Regions from separate parts of the Homo sapiens genome. Here region 2 is linked to region 1. The links come from fine-mapping of genetic effects on gene expression. A gene starts in region 1. The other region holds a variant in brackets. All regions are shown on one strand. Distances are between the middles of the regions.

Region 1 (10,052 bases):
AGCCAATGGGGAAAGGGCAAAGGGGTAGGATTTGCGTCAGGAATAAAAACTTTCTTCCTCCTTTGTTCTAGTGTGCTCTCATGGCGACTGGCAAAGAAGAAGCACCCCTCTGCACAGAAATAAAATTGCTTTGCTGAGAAATCCTTTGTTTGAGTGCTCGTCTCCCTTAAGATTCTGAGCTTTATTTCCAACAAGGAAGGTGATGGAGGTACCTAGATTGAAGAAATGAATGGTCCCTCTAGGAAACAAGCAAGGCTTTTTGCTTTTGCAAACCTCTCTTCTTTAAAGGTTACCCCTCTCCCAGACTCAGTGCTTTCTTCCTCTGCCATCTCAGCAGACAGTTCACAAGCTGCCTCTTTTTGTTTATGCAGAGCAGCTTCAGAACTACAAATTAAACTCACCCAGACACAATCAATCTATTCTTCTCAAAGCCTCCCATTCTATGCTCCCACAGATTGCTCCACTCACCTTCAGTCCAAAGCAGAGGAGTCTTGAATCAGGGGAGAAGAGTGAAGGCAGGGCAGGAGCCGGTGTAAACCAGATTCACTCACCAAGCCAGAGGGCTGGTCTCCACAAATGAGTTTCCCCACAGGAGCTGAGTGAGAAACGAAAGTTAAATTCTCAGAAGTGAAAGAAAACAAAGGAAGCTGAACAAGAACTTACATAACAATAAACCCTGGGGAAAGTAATGCTACATTATGTTCTAGCATCTGCTGTACTGGCAAGGCACTCAGTCACTACTTCCTTATTCTTACTGTGGTTTACTCAAGCAAGAATATTTGAATAAAAAGAATGTGAATTACAGTTATACAGCTTGCCTGAATACTTAGAATTCCAATGCAGTCCTATAATTATTAGTCGAATTTATCTTATATTTAAGACCTAAGCCAGGAAAATAAAGATCCAGAGACTTGGGACCTAGCTTCTTGAAATGCAGTCTGACGAGGAAGATACTCAGTTATAAAGCTCTACAAATTTGGGCTGACAAGATGAGTATTAGCAGCTGACATTGTGAATGGTAAAAAAATTATTTTTATAAATAAAAGGATCTTTAGTGTGAGCCCATTGAAAAAAATGTTCTCAAAATGTCATTAAATCTTAAGAGTCCATCAATTAATTATCACTTCCTGCTCCTAATCCAGACAGACCAGATGAGGATGGATTCCAGAGAGTAATAGAGGTAAAACTGTGTCAGTGTCATGTTACCCAGCCACTGAGGCAGGTGAGAACATGGAAGTTAACAGATGATGCTGTTTAATTATAATCATTCATTGAGTTACTCTCATGCCTTCATAATTTTTCCACTTTTCCCTGCTTCTCTAAGAAAAGTTTGGTCATTTTTACACAATCAATTAAAAAGCAGCACTGAAACATGTTATACGTCATGCACATACTTCTGTACCCTGTTGTCTATTGTATTCTTGTTTAACTGCATGTGCCAGATAATGCCATCAAAAACTGATGGAGGCCTGTGGTGTCTCATGCCTGTAATCCCAGCACTCTGGGAGGCCCAGGTGGGTGGATCACTTGAGTCCAGGACTTCAACACCAGCCTGGGCAACATGGTGAAATCCCATCTCTAAGAAAAATTAAAAAAAAAAAAATAGCTGGGTGTGGTGATGTGCACCTGTAGTCCCAGCTACTCAGGAAACTGAGATGGGAGGATGGCTTGAGCCCAGGAGGTGGAGGTTGCATTGAGCCAAGATTGCGTCATTGCACCATAGCACTGCAGCCTGGGTGACATAGTAAGACCCTGTCTCTACAAAAAACAAACAAACAAACACCACACAACACATACACACACACACCCAAAAAAAAAGAAAAAAAAAGGCAACTCATGGAGCTTCCATAACATGGATCCCTGACTGACACTATGGAGCATGGCCATCTTCATACTTTAATCAATGATACACATGTAGGATGACTGAGAAATCAATGTTTATTATTTCAATAATAGATATTTTGGTATTATTTGTTGCTCACAGAATAATAAGCTAATCCTGGCTATAAATTCTTTCCTACTCACTTATATCTATGAGGACCTTATTCAATCAGCTGAAAGCCAGAATAGAAGAAAAAACTGACTTCTCCCCGAGAAGAGGGAATATTACCAGCAGGCAAACCTCAGGCGTGAGCTATAACGTTGACTCCTTCTTGGATCCAGAGCCTCTTGGCCTACCTTGCAGACTTTGGATTTGCCAGTCTCCAGAATCACCTGAGACATTTCTCAAGTTTCTTTCCAAATAAATTCATAGTTTAGTGGTTCTATTGCTATGATGAACCTTGACTAAGACAGGCGTGAAATTTTCTTATTTCTTCTTGAAGATAAATAAGCAAGAGATGTAATTTTAGGTATATTCCATGTTTGAATAGAATATCTTGTTGACATTTGTAGGGGAGTGAGCGCTCAGTGAGTGAATGTGTTTTTTCTGGAGTGCACAGAGTGGAGTCCGAGTGTCAACCACAATGGACAAAGTGAATGAACTCATTTATCCAGAGACCTGTTCTCTGTCCATTATTTCTTCCCTTCTCAGCACTTCCATAGATCTCATAGCCATCCTTTTATTCTCGTCTGGCTTTGAACATCTGAAGTGAACTTTCATCCTGGTCTGATTTATCTCATGAAGTATTAATTGCAGCTGAGAGAAAACAGTAGTAATATTAGGTCCTGACAAGATACCAGAAAACGTGGGCCAATAGAAAAACTGAATGCACCACACACAGTTTATCACCAGAGTAGAGCATGTTGGCAGGCTCCATATTCTAACCTATGTTCTAAATTGTAGAAAAAATATATTATTGTTGGAGCTCTGTGTTTTCTCTGTAAACCCTTTTTTTTTTTTTTTTTTTTGAGACGGAGTCTCGCTCTGTCGCCCAGGCCGGACTGCGGACTGCAGTGGTGCGATCTCGGCTCACTGCAAGCTCCGCTTCCCGGGTTCACGCCATTCTCCTGCCTCAGCCTCCCGAGTAGCTGGGACTACAGGCGCCCGCCACCGCGCCTGGCTAATTTTTTGTATTTTTAGTAGAGACGGGGTTTCACCTTGTTAGCCAGGATGGTCTCAATCTCCTGACCTCATGATCCACCCACCTTGGCCTCCCAAAGTGCTGGGATTACAGGCGTGAGCCACCGCGCCCAGCCTGTAAACCTTATATATCCTGCTTTCCTGCTTGAAAAGGAATCAAATGAAATATCTCTACCTTTGGGTCCATGGATATTTAACATTTTTCTCTTCAAGAAAAAGAGCAAAATAAGAGTAAATATGGTTAGAGTCTGAATAATACTTAGGAAGAAAACAGAGAGGATATTTTAAAAAATCGTTTAAAATTTGTTTAAAAATTTACATAATTACTTTTTTTTTTTTTTTTTTTTTTTTTTTTTTTTTTTTTTTTTGAGACAGAGTCTCACTCTATTGCCCAGGCTGGAGTGCAGTGGCATGATCTCGGCTCACTTCAACCTCCACCTCCCGGGTTCACGCAATTCTCCTTCCTCACCCTCCTGAGTAGCTGGGATTACAGGCATCTGCCATTACACCTGGCTAATTTTTGTATTTTTCGTAGAGATGAGGTTTCACCATGTTGGTCAGGCTGGTCTCAAATTCCTGACCTCAAGTGATCCACCCGCCTTGGTCTCCCGAAGTGCGAGGATTACAGGTGTGAGCCACTGCAAATGTAATCATTACATAATTATTACTAATGCCACATAATTATTACTAAATAACAATTAGTAATATTAATTATAATTGTAACTATTAATAATTGTAATTATTAATAATACTAATTATTATAATTATTACTATAATTATTACTGCCACATAATTATTACTAATGCCAGAAGAATATTTGAATTAAACTAGGTGACACAGCAGTTATCTTTACAGCAAGAATAGAACAGAAATGTGACATCAAGATATTCAATTAAAATTAGATTAATAGCTATATATCTTCATATCTATTTAAATATTACTCCTTATATACACCATATTCTAGTAAATCTGAGACAATAAAGAACAAAATGCAAAAGCCCCCTACCTGATTTCATGAAACAGAAAGCTGCGGGGGTACAGTGTGGAGGGGGTATGAGGTTACTGATGATGGAATTAAGTGATAACAGGCTGCCCACTGCAGTGCTCCCCATTGCCTTCTCCTGAGGCATTTTCATTTTCAAACTAAATACTCCTCTCTACCAATGATCCTAGTTCCAGTGTGGACTTCCTGAGATGTTCCAGTAAGGGAAAGCTTAGAAGGGAGGCTATGGTACATGGACCACAGTTCAGCCTTTTGGACCAGTTTTGCATAGTAACCAGAAGAGAAGAGAGAGGAAGGCCTGGCCCTGCTCAGGGATGCAATAGATACTTTGGAAAAGACAACAGCGGGAAGTTGGAGAGTTCTTTGAAAGTGAATAGTTGAAAGAAATAATGTGGTATTTCTTTATCGCTCTCCAGATAAACTTCTTTTTTTTTTTTTTTTTTTTTTTTTTTTTGAGACGGAGTCTCACTCTGTCGCCCAGGCTGGAGTGCAGTGGCGCGATCTCTGCTCACTGCAAGCTCCGCCTCCCGGGTTCACGCCATTTTGCTGCCTCAGCCTCCGGAATAGCTGGGACCACAGGCACCCGCCACCATGCCCGGCTAATTTTTTATTTTATTTTATTTTATTTTATTTTATTAGAGATGGGTTTTCACCGTGTTAGCCAGGATGGTCTCGATCTCCTGACGTTGTGATCCGCCCGCCTCAGCCTCCCAAAGTGCTGGCATTACAGGCGTGAGCCACCGCGCCCGGCCCTCTCCAGATAAATTTCTAGCATCCTGTCCTCTCTGGGTTTCGGAGTCTTAATAATATGACATCTCTCCTACCTGCAGCTCCTTTTCTGTTCATAGGTCCTATAAGATTTTTAAGTCCAGACCAGAAATCTACTGCAATTCTCTAAAAATCATTAACTTTGTTCTTCCTTCTCTTTGGGCCATATCTGTCACCCAGAAGCAGAACTCAGCTGTGAGATCAGGAGCAAGAGGAGCACATTGGAAGAATTTCGAAAAAGGGCACCTTTTCTAATTTTTAATACTTGGCTGGGTTAATCTGAAACTATGTCAGAAGAAGTGGCATGATAACAAGATCCTGAGACTCAAGAGAAAAGGGAGATTGAGTGGGAATGCCTCTAGTTCCCACGGCTCCTCCTGTGAACAGCACAGCTACACGGCCCGGCTGATTCATTCAGAGGGCGGGACTCACCAGGCCCTACGTGGAGAAATGCCATTGGCCCATAGTTTATCTTTCACTTTCCTGCCCTGAGTGTGAGCAAGAATTTCCTGCGGTTCCTCTAGGAAAATTCCTTTGTGCAGATCAGGCCCGTGGATTGGTGAGTGAATCCTAACCACGTCTTCCCTGGCCTGTCTTCACTCTTCTCCCCAGAATCACCACTTCTGCACTGGTGTCTGAAGGTGTATTGAGTGATTTTGTGGAGGGCAGAAGTAGGAAGTCTTTGGGACAAAACTGTATTTACCTTGGTGAGTTTAACTTATCTGAAAAGCTGTGCGGGGGTGGGGAAAAGACACAGTTCACAGACTTCTTGCTGCCAGAGCTGACTGAGGGGAACAGAGCCGCCTGGCGGGCAGGCAGATTTGAAAGAAGGGAGAGCTTTAAAGTGAAGGGCTTTGTTTCCCGAAGGCTGGTTATTTTTCCATGCTGACTCTCTCCCCATCCCCTCCCTACTCTATACTTTTTAATTGAACTTTGCTGTAGAGAGCCAGAATTCTCTCTTTCAGTGTCTTCTCCCAACAACAAGGGCAAAGACAGGGGCCTTGGAATCCTAATGATTTAATGCCTATTAGTTTACTAATGTAGTGTTTCTGCATAACTCTACAGGTCAGTTCTCATCACCTTGGCCTGGCTCTGTGACATCAGCCTTCATGGTGTGACAGCTGTCCAGTTCTGTAGTCCTGTCATTGTCACTGTAAATGGAGTTCTTTCCCTAGTTCATATTGGTTACAAAGATAATGGGAAAAAAGGCAAGCAGGTTTTATTTCTTGCTAGGAGTGGAGAGTAAGAGAGCTCCTTCTCTAAAGCCCCCTCCCCCAAAACAGTGGAAAGCATTGGCTTTAAAAGAACTGAGTACGGGGAGAGAAAGGAGTGTTAGCCTATAGGGTGGAACTCCAGTTGTGCCACCTCTGTTTATAAACACATGTCTTCATACTGTGTCCGGAATTGGTGGGTTCTTGGTCTCACTGACTTCAAGAATGAAGCCGCGGACGCTTGCAGTGAGTGTTACAGTTCTTAAAGGCGGCATGTCCGGAGTTTCTTCCTTCTGATGTTCGGATGTGTTCAGAGTTTCTTCTTTCTGGTGGGTTCGTGGTCTCGCTGGCTCAGGAGGGAAGCTGCAGACCTTCGCGGTGAGTGTTACAGCTCATAAAGGCAGTGTGGACCCAAAGAGTGAGCAGTATTAAGATTTATTGCAAAGAGGAAAATAACAAAGCGTCCATAGTGTGGAAGGGGACCAGCGCAGGTTGCCACTGCTGGCTCAGGCAGCCTGCTTTTATTCTCTTATCTGGCCCCACCCACATCCTCCTGATTGGTCCATTTTACAGAGAGCCGAGTGGTCTGTTTTGACAGGGCACTGATTGGTGCATTTACAATCCCTGAGCTAGACACAAAAGTTCTCCAGTCCCCACTAGATTAGCTAGATACAGAGTGTAGACACAAAGATTCTCCACATCCCCACCAGAGTAGCTAGATACAGAGTGTCGATTGGTGCATTCACAAACCCCGAGCTAGACACAGGGTGCTGATTGGTGTGTTTACAAACCTTGAGCTAGATACAGAGTGCCGATTGGTGTATTTACAATCCCTTCGCTAGACATAAAGTTTCTCCAAGTCCCCACCAGAGTAGCTAGATATAGAGTGTCGATTGGTGCATTCACAAACCCTGAGCTAGACACAGGGTGCTGATTGGTGCATTTACAATCCCTTAGCTAAACATAAAGGTTCTGCAAGTCCCCACCAGACTCAGGAACCCCACTGGCTTCACGCAGTGGATCCTGCACCGGGCCGCAGGTGGAGCTGCCTGCCAGTCCTGTGCCATGCCACGCACCTGCACTCCTCAGCCCTTGGGTGGTGATGGGACTGGGCGCCGTGGAGCAGGGGGCGGTGCTCGTCAGGGACGCTCGCGCAGCACAGGAGCCCAAGGGGTCGTGGGGAGGCTCAGGCATGGTGGGCTGCAGGTCCTGAGCTCTGCCCCGCGGGGAGGCAGCTAAGGCCCGGCGAGAAATTGAGCACAGCAGCTGCTGGCCCAGGTGCTAAGCCGCTCACTGCCCGGGGCAGCGGGGCCGGCCGGCCACTCCGAGTGCGGGGCCCACCAAGCCCACGCCCACCCGGAACTCCAGCTGGCCCACAAGCGCGGCGCGCAGCCCCGGTTCCCGCTCGCCCCTCTCCCTCCACACCTCCCTGCAAGCTGAGGGAGCCAGCTCCGGCCTTGGCCAGCCCAGAAAGGGGCTCCCACAGTGCAGCGGTGGGCTGAAGAGCTCCTCAAGTGCCGCCAAAGTGGGAGCCCAGGCAGAGGAGGCGCCAAGAGCGAGTGAGGGCTGCAAGGACTGCCAGCATGCTGTCACCTCTCAATACAACCCAGGCACACAAAATGGTGGAGATTTTCTTGTTTGGTGTCGTGTGGGGGAGGGGGTAACTTAACACTCTAGTGATATGTTAATGATCTAAAGGCAATTAGGGATTGTCAGTTCCAGTATATACGCTGGTTCGGGGGTCTAATTTCCCCCTTGGATCTGGTCAGGGGTCAAGATCTGGACCATGCTGGGCAGTCTGGCTTCTTCTTAAGCAACTTTGTCTATACATAAAGGGAATAAAGAAAAACGTTAAGAAAAATAACTTTCCCAGTCATTTCATCAGGGCTTCCCTGGTGACAGCATCTGTTTGCCTCTACTAGGGCACCAAGTCCAGACTCAGGGAACTACTGGATTTTCTTAAAAATCATTAACCTTGCTCCTCCCTCTCCGTGGGCCGTATCTGCCCCCCAAAAGCAGAGCTTAGGTGAGATACGAAGAGCAGGAGAAGCATGTGGAAAGAATACCCAAGTAGCTGGGATTACAGGCACCTGTCACCAAGCTCAGCTCATTTTGTATTTTTAGTAGAGACAGAATTTCACCATGTTGGCCAGGCTGGTCTTGAACTCCCAGCCTCAGGTGATCCGCCTGCCTTGGCCTCCCAAAGTACTAGGATTACAAGCGTGAGCCACCACACCCGTCTGGTTAAGTTAAATATTAAAAGCTGAAGCCGGGCACGGTGGCTCACGCCTGTAATCCCAGCACTTTAGGAGGCCGAGGCAGGTGGATCACAAGGTCAGGAGTTGGAGACCAGACTGGCCAATATGGTGAAACCCCATCTGTACCAAAAATACAAAAATTAGCCGGGTGTGGTGGTGCGTGCCTGTGGTCCCAGCTGCTCGGGAGGCTGGGGCAGAGGAGTCACTGGAACCTGGGAGGCAGAGGTTGTGGTGAGCCGAGATTGTGCCATTGCACTCCAGCCTGGGCGACAGAGCAAGACTCCGTCTCAAAAAAGAAAAAAAAATATTAAAAGCTGATAGAGCCAGTGCCCTTATACAAAGGCTGGAATGTAACAGAAGCCCACTGAGAGTTTTGCCCAGGCCTTTCCTGGGCCTTGAAGCATGACAAGATAACGAAGGAATCGATTAGGACCTGTTTAGGATTAAACAAGTTTTATGGGGGTCTGAAGGAACTCCCAGGCCTCCACAAACAAGTTTATTGAGGGTCTGAAGGAACTCCGCAAACCTTAATGATTTAGCAGGAGAGACAAGATAAGGGTAATCACCCCAGCACCCGGACCCATCTAGATTAGGTAAATTTACTGAGGCACCAGAGGAAGGTCTTAAAACTCAGACCTTAGTTATAGATTTGAAGAAGTTAATCACTTATGTTTTTAGATGAATAATGCACACCTATACGTAGACGTATAGCTTAGAAGGTATATAAGCTCTGGAAAACTTTGTAATTTTGAGTTGGTCTGGAGATATTTTCTAGGCCTTCTCCCTGTACGCAGAAATAAAAATTCGCTTCTTTCCCAGTAAATCTGCATCTCGTTATTGGGCCGCAAGAAGCAGCAGCCGACCCTCCGTTTGTTCCGGGAACAGAATCATCTCATCTAATATTTTGAGACTTCTCTCTCAAGACTGATATCCACTGCCTCTGTGCTTCTAGTTTTCAAGTATCCAACATGTGTGGTCCACTGAGTATTTCTCTATCATCACCCTCTACACCATGTCTACACCTTTAGGCTCCAATAAATGTCCTTGGCAAACTTTCAGGATGAGACTCCTCAGAACCTCCCAGCTGTTGTGGATTCCTCTACTTCCACACCCCAATTGCTCTGGGTATTAATTGGATATATGCTGTTATCTCCATTTGTCATTGATTAACCAAAAGAGTAGCAAAGAGGCCAGTGAAAGAGGACCCTGAATACGAGGTCATCTCAGGTCACCATACTGAAGATAAATAATTTTTGTAAATCACTTATTATGTCTATTTATACATTTGATGAAACAGTCATTCACTCTGCTGATAATAAGAGCAATCATTGCAAACGTACAGTGCATGGTGAGATTTGTTACACTGCACATAAGGTAGTCAGAGCAGGTATTTTTGATAATATAACATGTAAGGAGAGAATTTAATAAAATCGTACTAACATCAGAGAAACATTTCATGCTGAGAGAAGAGCAAATGTGAAAGCCCTGAGGCATAAGCTGTTTGGTGATTTTAATACTGAGGATGTGTTTTGGCGTGGGAAAGAAAAGCCAGGAGAGATGATGGGTCACACAAAGATCTTGGTAGAAAAGACCTCAGTCTGTTTTCTATTCATTGAAAGTAAAGAAAAATGATAACCAATGCACAGATAAGAACAGAATTTGTCATATGACATGAACTGGCAGTAAAGTATTTAAGGTGATTATGAAAAGCCCTTATTACCAGGTAACCAAACACCTTTTCTTATTTCTCCCCTTTTTTTGTCCTTAATTATTTTCATCTTGCCCATTTT
Region 2 (10,052 bases), 22 kb after region 1:
ATCTTCCCAAGTAGTTGGAACTACAGGCTCATGCCACCATGCTTGGCTAATTTTTTTTTATTTTATTTTTTGTAGAGATGCGGTCATGCTATGTTGCCTAGGCTGTACATCTGTTTAATAAATCAAAGAAGCACTAATTATTTAAATCATTTCATGGAGAGCCATATACGTTTGGAGAAAAACAAATTGTCAGTCACTTCTTTTCCTTCTAAACATGTCCCATCTGCAGAAACCAGGAGCCTCTTCCACAGGGATGAAAGCTATTTCTACTTTTAAGGGAACTTGGAAATCTCACATGAGTCTTCTGGGATGATTGCCTTGAGTCTTATCTTTGCTTTTTTGTCTTTCACACTGTCACCATCTCCATTCTCAGCACATTAGGAACCGGGGGAAATGTGATGAAGCTTTATAAGTGAGGAGAGACTCTTTCTTTCTTAATTGATGTTTTCTCTCTTCTTCCTAGGGTGTGGATGGCGTCATAAAAAGGTATGTGTGGGAGGACAGAGATGGTCCTTTTGTGCAGTGAGGAGAGATTTATAGCCATTAGAATTGTCCTGGGTTTAATTAGAATAAAACATCTCCCAGGGCAGAAAAATTTCGATATTGTTTTATCATAAATTTCTGGTCATAAATCAGCATTCGAATGTTCTATAACTATTAAGAATAGACCAGATTTGGCCAGGTGTGGTGGCTCAAGCCTATAATCCCAGCACTTTGGGACGCCGAGTCAGGAAGATCAGGAGTTTGAGACTAGCCTGGCCAACGTGGCAAAACCCTGTCTCTATCAAAAAAATACAAAAATTAGGGGGGCGTGGTGGCCCGTGCCTGTAATCCCAGCTATTCGGGAGGCTGAGGCAGGAGAATTGCTTGAATCCAGGAGGCAGAGGTTGCAGTGAGCCAAGACCATGCCACTGCACTCCAGTCTGGGCGACAAAGTGAGACTCTGTCTTAGAAAAATCAATAAAATTAAATAAAATTAAAAAAAAGAAAAGGAATAGACCAGATTCTATGGTAGAAAATTTGGGTGGTGGAGACTCGGAGTGTGGGTCAGTAGTGGTTTCAGGGAGAAGGTGTTGCAGTGTTGGACCCCTGCGCCATCACCATTTTATTACCTACATCTAGTTCTCTTTCTGTATTTAATAGGTTCTTGATTTATTTTGGATGGGCCATATCTTCTTTTTCTCTTATATACCCCTAATTGTCCATTGGGACAATTCCCACATGTTTATATTTTCCTCCTGGAAAAAGACCAGTTCCTCTTCATTTATATTTAGATTTCCAAAATCAGATGTTTATTTCCGGAATAATATTTCAAAATAATATTCTGGATAATATGTGGTCATGGTACAAAGAATTGATCCACCTCAGTTGCATTCTTTACAAGAGCATAAAAAGGTGCTATTCTTGTGTCTAAAATCGCACACCTCGCACACCTACGTGGTGGTATCAAGTTCTTTCTAACCACACGATATTCAGGCCAGTAATAGTTTAGTGCACATAATTTCTCATTTGCCAAGTGTTTGTAATTTTTCCCGGAAATCTGAAACCTTAGATGTTATCTGAGTACCTCCCTGCTGGGAATAGCTTTGAAGGTCTTAGGCCTCTCCAAACAGGATTCCTCTCTTGATATGTGTCAAACACCCAGGAGCCAGGTTCTGCAACCTCACTTTCTAACCATCTCCCTGGGAACTCAACATACATAGCGATGATGTTTCCACCCATTAAATGTTAGGGTTTCTTTTGTAAGGCACCAAAGTTTTGTTTTGTTTTGTTTTAAAATCCTTTTTTTTTTTTTTATGTCCTATGAGTTTAAGAATGTAGACAGGGAGAGGTTAATTATTTCATTTTAGAAGGAAGAAACTGTGCTTCTGAGAGGTTAAGATCTTCCCACGTTCTCACAGAAAGTAAGTGGGAAGGCAAACATGAGAACATTTTGTTTGCCTCCAGGGTCAAGAGTTTGCACTCTCCCTTCTCAGGATCCCCAAGAAGAGAGTTCAAGTGCCTCAATGGGTTGAAATGATAGGAAGTCAGGGGTGTTCCACGGACACAAGGTCAAAGGTTTGGAAGTTTTTTTTTTTTTTTTTAATTCTTAGGACGGAGAACGTGACCTTGAAGAAGCCAGAAACTTTTCCAAAAAATCAAAGGAGAGTGTTTCGAGCTCCTGATCTGAAAGGAATGCTAGAAGTGTTTAGAGGTGAGGAGAGCTAGATCAACAACAGGGTTATGGAATTCAAGTGGTGTTAGGGTGCTAAATAGGGAAGAGGGTGCAGTTTCCAAATATGGATAGAGGGGATAGGGGAGGATAGATATTGTCTGCTGCTGATGGGATTATATTTAATGGGAAATGGCTAGGTGGCTGTTTCATCTCATCATTCAGCAATTTACTGCCCTACCATAGGGCATACCTACTCTTTCCCTAATCTGGAGAGAAAATGAATTTCAGTGCTGACTCCTTTGTTTGTATTCAATATTGTGCATTTTTATCATTTCAGAGCTGACAGATGTCCGACGCTACTGGGGTAAGGAGAAGTCACATTATCATAAGCCACCCTGCGGCTTATCATTATTATTATCTTTATCTTTTAGAATTTTATGTTCTCTATTAGGCTCATGTTTTAAGATTTATGATTCTCCTTCCAAGACACACATAACTTACCCCTCCTTATAACTTCTAAACAAGGTTCCTCCCAGTTTTCTCTCAAGTCTTTATCAAGATTTCTCTCATATCACAAATAAAGTTACATTATATCCCTTAGCTGACCTGTTAATTTTTCTACAGTTGATGTGACAGTGGCTCCAAACAACATTTCATGTGCTGTCATTTCTGAAGATAAGAGACAAGTGAGCTCTCCGAAACCACAGATAATATATGGGGCACGAGGGACAAGATACCAGACATTTGTGAATTTCAATTATTGTACTGGCATCCTGGGCTCTCAAAGTATCACATCAGGGAAACATTACTGGGAGGTAGACGTGTCCAAGAAAACTGCTTGGATCCTGGGGGTATGTGCTGGCTTCCAACCTGATGCAATGTGTAATATTGAAAAAAATGAAAATTATCAACCTAAATACGGCTACTGGGTTATAGGGTTAGAGGAAGGAGTTAAATGTAGTGCTTTCCAGGATAGTTCCTTCCATACTCCTTCTGTTCCTTTCATTGTGCCCCTCTCTGTGATTATTTGTCCTGATCGTGTTGGAGTTTTCCTAGACTATGAGGCTTGCACTGTCTCATTCTTCAATATCACAAACCATGGATTTCTCATCTATAAGTTTTCTCACTGTTCTTTTTCTCAGCCTGTATTTCCATATTTAAATCCTAGAAAATGTGGAGTCCCCATGACTCTGTGCTCACCAAGCTCTTGAACCTTCTTACACACTCAGCCCCTTCTGTACAGCACCTCTTGTCCAGGTGCATCTCATACACCTGAACTCATTTGCATCATTTTAACCATCTTTTCCTTGCTGTCTCCCTTCTTTCTATTTGAACGTCCTTCACTCATCAGTAAAATGTAATAATTGCCTTGTGCCATATTGTCCCCAATATTTTATTGACATTTGATAGCAATTTTTTTCATCATTTTCCGTACTCCTAAGGAAAACTGACCTATACCTCATAAAATGAGACCGCTATTTAGGTATTACTTCTGCCAGATATTTATCACCCAATTGCCTCTGACACTGACTAAGAAGATGAAGAAAAGCTTTTCAACAGCCTTTCTATATCATCGTGTGATAATTGTTCACCAATGAATGAGTCCTTAGCCCTGTGTCAGTTTACCCTCGATGCCCTTATTTGTGAGTTAAAGAGAAAATATCATAAATGGTATACTCTTAAGTATAGAGGTTTTGTATCTAGAGGATCTCAGTTCAACTCCTGTCTCTCCATATACCAGCAGTGTAACTGTGAATAACATACTTAAATGGCTGTGCTTATTTCCTTTTCTTTTCTTTTTTCTTTTTTTTTTTTTTTGAGATGAAGTTTTGCTCTTGTTCCCCAGGCTGGAGTGCAATGGCACGATCTCGGTTCACTGCAACCTCCACCTCTCAGATTCAAGCAATTCTCCTGCCTCAGCCTCCCAAGTAGCTGGGATTACAGGTGCCCACCACCACCCCTGGCTAAATTTGTATTTTCAGTAGAGACGGGGTTTCCCCATGTTGGTTAGGCTCGTCTAGAACCTCTGACCTCAGGTGATCCACCCGCCTCGGCCTCCCAAAGTGCTGGGATTACAGGCGTGAGCCACGGCGCCCAGCCTGTGCTTATTTTCTTAAAATAATTTTTGTATTAAAAACTTCACATTAAATAAGTGCTAATGTTTTATTGCATAGTAGGGTGACTAGAGTTAACAATAACCTATTGCATATATTTTGAAATAGCTAGAAGAGAGGATTTTGAAAGTTCTCAACACAAAGAAATGACACATATTTGAGGTGATGGATATGCTAATTACCCTGGTTCGGTTATTACGCAATGTATACATGTATCAAAACATCACACTGTACCACATAAATATGTATATTTATTATTTGTCAATTAAAAGCAAAATAAAACAAAAAACCTTCATCTAATACTTTGGATCATTGTGAAAAAATAAATTCCTGAAGTATAAAGCATCTATCTAAGTGTCTTGATCTAATAAGTACTTGTTCTACAAATTATTGAAAAACATAAACTCTGTTAATGTCTCATGGAACAGGTTGTGCCTTCAGGGAAACTAGGATTGGATTTACTAAATTCTCATTTTTTAGATCTCAGATACTACTGTCAAAATGACTTCAATTCTGCCTTCTATATATAATACACACATATATTTAGGATTTTATTGTAATTCTAGTGTTGCTACATATTAGTCTTTATCAAACAAACTGAATTATGTGGGAATCAGTTTATTAATTGTAAAAAATAATTATAATAAAATTAGCTGATGTAGTTTTTTAAAAGTTAAACGAGTTTTTTGAATAGCTTCACTCATTTCTAGCATGTAAGGGGTAATCCATTATGGTGTTGGGCTTTTTTGTTTGTTTGTTTGTTTGTTTGTTTGTTTGTTTTGAGACAGGGTTTGTCTCTGTCACCCAAGCTGGAGTGCAATGGCACGATCTCGGCTCACTGCAACCTCCATCTCCAGGGTTCATCCTTCCACCTCAGCCTCCTGAGTAGCTGGGACTACAGTCACGCACCACCACGCCCTGGTTATTTTTTGTATTTTTGGTAGAGACAGGGTTTCACTATGTTGCCCAGGCGGATCCCGAAGCCCTGGGCTCAGGCGATCTGCCCACTTTACCTCCCAAAGTGCTAGGATTATAGGTGTGAGCCACCATGCCCGGCCTCATTATGGTGTCTATTAATTTTTGGTTCCCTCTCACTGTGACTGAAAGCAATAATTTTTAACAATATGTAATAGTTCTTTTCAAAATTATCTTTCTCCCTTCGTTTGAAGAAATACAAGAACTAAGTTAAAAATCACAGATTTTTCTTGTAGAAAGTTTTAAAATAAGTGTTTATAAATGGGAAAAAAAATCTTTGTTCTTAATTTCATAGCTGCCTAGTCTTAAGTTGTTTTAAGTATTTCTGAGTACTCTAATTTCATTGTAAATTTTTCCTGTTTGCCAAGTAGTAAAAACGTATTTTGCACAGTGATGCAGATAAAGTCAGAAGTACATGTGGCATTTCTCAACAATGGTATCGATAAGTGAATTGTGAGCCCAGGTTAGCCTGACTCTTCATTAAAGTAACAAAGGCATGGTAATTTTCATAAATGACAAAAAAATACTTGTTCTCCTTGTTCAGTGAGGAGAATTATTTTTGCAACGGATGTTTATGAAGGGCATGGTAGGAT[C/T]CCTATGTCTATTGGCATTTTTATTTCCAACTCTTTCCCAAGTTTTGAGCTGAAGTTTTTTGTTTTGTTTTAATGGTCTACCTCATCAAATAGTCTCTGCTCTTCACCCTGCTTCCCCACAGAAATTTTAAGGTCTCTATCTTTGTGGTAACTTTAGTCAGAGAAGGGATTCCAAGGTGAATATTTTCAGTAACTATGTGTGTGCACACACCTCTCTACCTCAGCACCATCCAGGGAAACCGAGGAGGTTGATGCTATAAATTTTCCCTTTTACCTCTGCTTTCCTGTCACCCAATGCTATGAAGATTGAGGCTTTCACTCACTGGGAACAGTCTGGACTAGCTTGAATTATTGGCAAGTGACTCTCCAGGGACATTAATGCCTTTTCATTTCCTGGAAAGCCAAGTCCCACAGCTCAGGATGAAGTACCCAGTTACACAACAATAAAGACCTGAATTTGTATATACAACAGAAAAGATCTGCACACTGAAGGATTTTTTCAAACAGATGCTCCTGGCCCTAGTAATGAACCTCTCAGCTGAAAAGAATATGAAGCTTATGAATTGCTCTGAGTTACACTCCGTCTTCTCAGTAAAAGGCTGAAGAAGGCAACCTGTGCTCCAAAAGGCTAATGGACGTCAACTGTGGATTTTCTCTCTGCCTGTGTATCAGTTCTAGGATGTTCCCTCCCCATCACTTCTGAACCTCTGAGTAACAATTATGTCGTCTTCTATTCTGAGACTTCAGATCTATGCTGGGCCATTAATTAGGCATATCTGGCTAGAATTTTGGTACAATCTGGGGAGAAGCACAGAGAAAAGAGGTTGTGAAAAAAAACAGGGATTGCTTGAAGACTGTTCTGCAGGACACTGAGTAAAGAATGGGAGCAGGCCTCAAGCAGAAACCAGTGGGAGGACAAAGAATACGAAGAAGCAGAATGAGAGTTCGTAGGGGCTAAAGAGAAGGTGCCCTGATGAAGAGCCAATTCTAAGATTCAAAGGGAGAGAAAAGTAAAAGAACGTTTATATGATGTGTTGGAGGGATGGGATGGAATAAGCATCGGGCAGAGGAGAGCTCTTTGGAAAAGAGATCTCTTTGGTTTTTTTCTTTGGACATTGCAACCAATACTCCTTCTTGATGCTATACTTGTCACAAGGTAACAATTATGTTCTGAGCTCCTTGATCCTATTCAGTATCAATAAGATACATAAGTTAAATCTCATAATATGCCTAAACATATATCTAATCTTTTTTTTTTTTTTTTTTTTTTTTTTTTTTTTTTTTTTTTTTTTTTTTGAGACGGAGTCTCTCTCTGTCGCCCAGGCTGGAGTGCAGTGGCGCGATTTCGGCTCACTGCAACCTCCACCTCCTGGGTTCACGCCATTCTCCTGCCTCAGTCTCCCGAGTAGCTGGCACTACAGGCACCTGCCACCATGCCCAGCTAATTTTTGGTATTTTTAGTAGAGTCAGGGTTTCACCGTGTTAGCCAGGATGGTCCCGATCTCCTGACCTCAAGATCCGCCCGCCTCGGCCTCCGAAAGTGCTGGGATTACAGGCGTGAGCCACTGCGCCCGGCCTATCTAAACTTAATAATATCTTTGTATTAACCACCATACTCCAACACCACCATTATTTTCTTTCTGAATTATGTGGCAGTGCAAAACATTACAACCACACTGAAAAAAAAATCCGGCAGTTTGGTAGAGAAAGAAAGCGTAAAATCAATCAATTTAACATATAGTTAAAGATTGTCTAGAGTGAGCAAAACTGAGGTTCTATTTCCATTAATGAAGGTATATATTCTAATAAAACTGCATGCCCTCACCCACAGATCCAACATTAGAAACCTTGGACAAAATGTAAAAATCAAACCTGAAGGCACTAGAAAGTGACAAGCAATCAGAATATTCAGGGTAATAGACACTTAGAAAAAGACAACAGTATTGGGGGAGTTTCCTGTTTCTGTGGCTTTTCACTTGAAGGCAGACCTCAGTTGTTACTGGGTAGAACACTAAAAACTCAGTTAACAATATATGTACTTGCTGCTTTGAAAAACAAGAATGAGCCGGACGCAGTGGCTTACGCTTGTAATCCCAGCACTTTGGGAGGCTGAGGTGGGCAGATCACAAGATCAGGATTTCGAGACCAGCTAGGCCAATATGGTGAAACCCCGTCTCTACTAAAAACACAAAAATTAGCCGGGCATGGTGGTGGGCGCCTGTAGTCCCAGCTACTCAGGAGGCTGAGGCAGGAGAATCGCTTGAACCCAGGAGGCAGAGGTTGCAGTGAGCCGAGATCTCGCCACTGCACGTCAGCCTGGGCGACAGAGCGAGACTCCGTTTCAAAAAAAAAAGAATGATTTGTGCCTGCCATAGCAACTAGAAAATGATGGTAGAGTACCCGTAAAGAAGAGATATAGAGGAATAAATACCAAATTGTATAAACTCTAGTCAAGTCTCTAAAGTACATGTTTGAGACAGATGTGAAGCAGCCCAAAATAGGCTAAAGATTTCAGCTGCTGTATGTAGCAGGGAAAAATTAAGAATTTAATTTCAATCAAATTAACTACCTGAAAAAAAAAAAAGGCTTCAGAGAATTATACAGAATCCAGAACAGGAGCTTACAAAACAATAAAACCTGGGGATGGTAATGTTTCAGTATGTTCTATGGTCTGTACCATCTAGGCACTCAGTCACTACAGTTTTATTCTTAGTGCAGTTTACTACAGCAAGAATATTTGAATTAAAAGAATATGAATTACAGTTATACATTCTACAGCTTTGAATATACAGTGCTTTACCTGAGTACTTAGAATTTCCATGCAATTCTATAATTATTAGTTGAAGTTATCTTATACCTAAGCTCTAAGCATGTAGAATAATGACCCAGAACAACTTGACACCTAGCATCTTGAAATGCAATCTGATGGGGAAGACACTGAGTTATAAAGCTCTGCAAATTTGGGCTGACAAAATGAGTTATTAGTGAAATGAGAAAAGTTCCCTTGTTCCCTTTGCAGGGCATGCGACAGGGGGAATGGCTCGCTTCAGTGCCCTGCTGCTCAAAGCTCTAGGGGAGAATGCAGACGGGCAGGCTGTGGGGCTCTAACCCCACAGCAACCTCTAGGGGTGAGTGTTTACAGCTCCTGTGGGCCCCGCGGACATGTGTTACACTGTACTCTTTTTTTTTATACTTTAAGTTCTAGGGTACATGTGCACAATGTGCAGGTTTGTTACATATGTATACATGTGCCGTGTTGGTTTGGTGCACCCATTAACTCGTCATTTACATTAGGTATTTCTCCTAATACTATCCCTCCCCCAGGCGCCCACCCTACCACAGGCCTCAGTGTGTGATGTTCCCCGCCCTGTGTCCAAGTGTTCTCATTGTTCAATTCCCACCTACAAGTGAGAACATGCGGTGTTTGGTTTTCTGTCCTTGTGATAGTTTGCTGAGAATGATGGTTTCCAGCTTCATCCATGTCCCTGCAAAGGACATGAACTCATCCTTTTTTGTAGCTGCATAGTATTCCATGGTGTATAGTGCCACATTTGACCCAGCGATCCCATTACTGGGTATGTGCCCAAAGGATTATAAATCATGCTGCTATAAAGACACATGCACACACTGTACTCTTTCTAACAAAACTTCATGTCCTCACCCATAGATCAACATTAGAAACCTTGCACAAAATGTGAAAATCAAGTAAACCTGAAGGCACTAGAAAGTGACAAAAGCAGTCAGAATATTCAGGGTAATAGACACTTAGAAAAATATAACAGTATTGGAGGAGTTTCCTCTTTGCTGCCTGCAGGTGGCTTGTGTTTATCTGCTCTGACCCTCTGCCTTATTGCAAGGACAGAGGGCTTTCTGTATCCCAGGTTCTTGCCTTAACGTATCAGAAAAATTGGATCACACGTGGGCTTGGAGAACGAGTGCAAGGTTTTTTATCGAGTGGTAGTAGCTCTCAGCGAGGTGGATGAAGAGGCCAGAAGGAAGATGGAGTAGGAAGGTGGATTTCCCTGGAGTTGGGCCACCCAGCAGCCAGGCTGTCCTCTGACATCCCCGACCAATCTCTGCATCGGTCCATTGGTCGCTGGCCTTCCAGCATGTGCTGGTGCCTGTTGGTGTGTTCTTCTACCAATTTGCTACTCTTAACATTCAGTTGCTTGTGTCTCTTCCTGCTATAGGCACAGGATGGGGGCATAGCAGGCC

What was found. PIP is the estimated chance that this variant, and not a neighbour inherited with it, causes the effect.
Region 2: its variant is fine-mapped to the expression of TRIM5 in whole blood (INTERVAL, PIP above 0.99).

Annotation. Positions count from the first base shown.
Region 1 is chr11:5,680,316-5,690,367 of GRCh38, reverse strand. TRIM5 (tripartite motif containing 5) reads left to right here and starts at 5,294. Exons shown (of 8, transcript NM_033034.3): 1 at 5,294-5,500. TRIM22 (tripartite motif containing 22) reads right to left here and starts at 578. Exons shown (of 8, transcript NM_006074.5): 1 at 469-578. It overlaps LOC124902620 (a long non-coding RNA gene), which reads left to right. Exons shown (of 2, transcript XR_007062561.1): 2 at 72-141. RefSeq lists enhancers at 1-473, 445-784, 1-898, 5,287-5,536.
Region 2 is chr11:5,658,123-5,668,174 of GRCh38, reverse strand. It overlaps TRIM5 (tripartite motif containing 5), which reads left to right. Exons shown (of 8, transcript NM_033034.3): 5 at 464-486; 6 at 2,094-2,194; 7 at 2,493-2,519; 8 at 2,780-4,980. The coding sequence ends at 3,366. LOC107984302 (a long non-coding RNA gene) reads left to right here and starts at 7,343. Exons shown (of 2, transcript XR_001748100.1): 1 at 7,343-8,965. The variant C/T (reference allele first, on the strand shown) is at 5,838.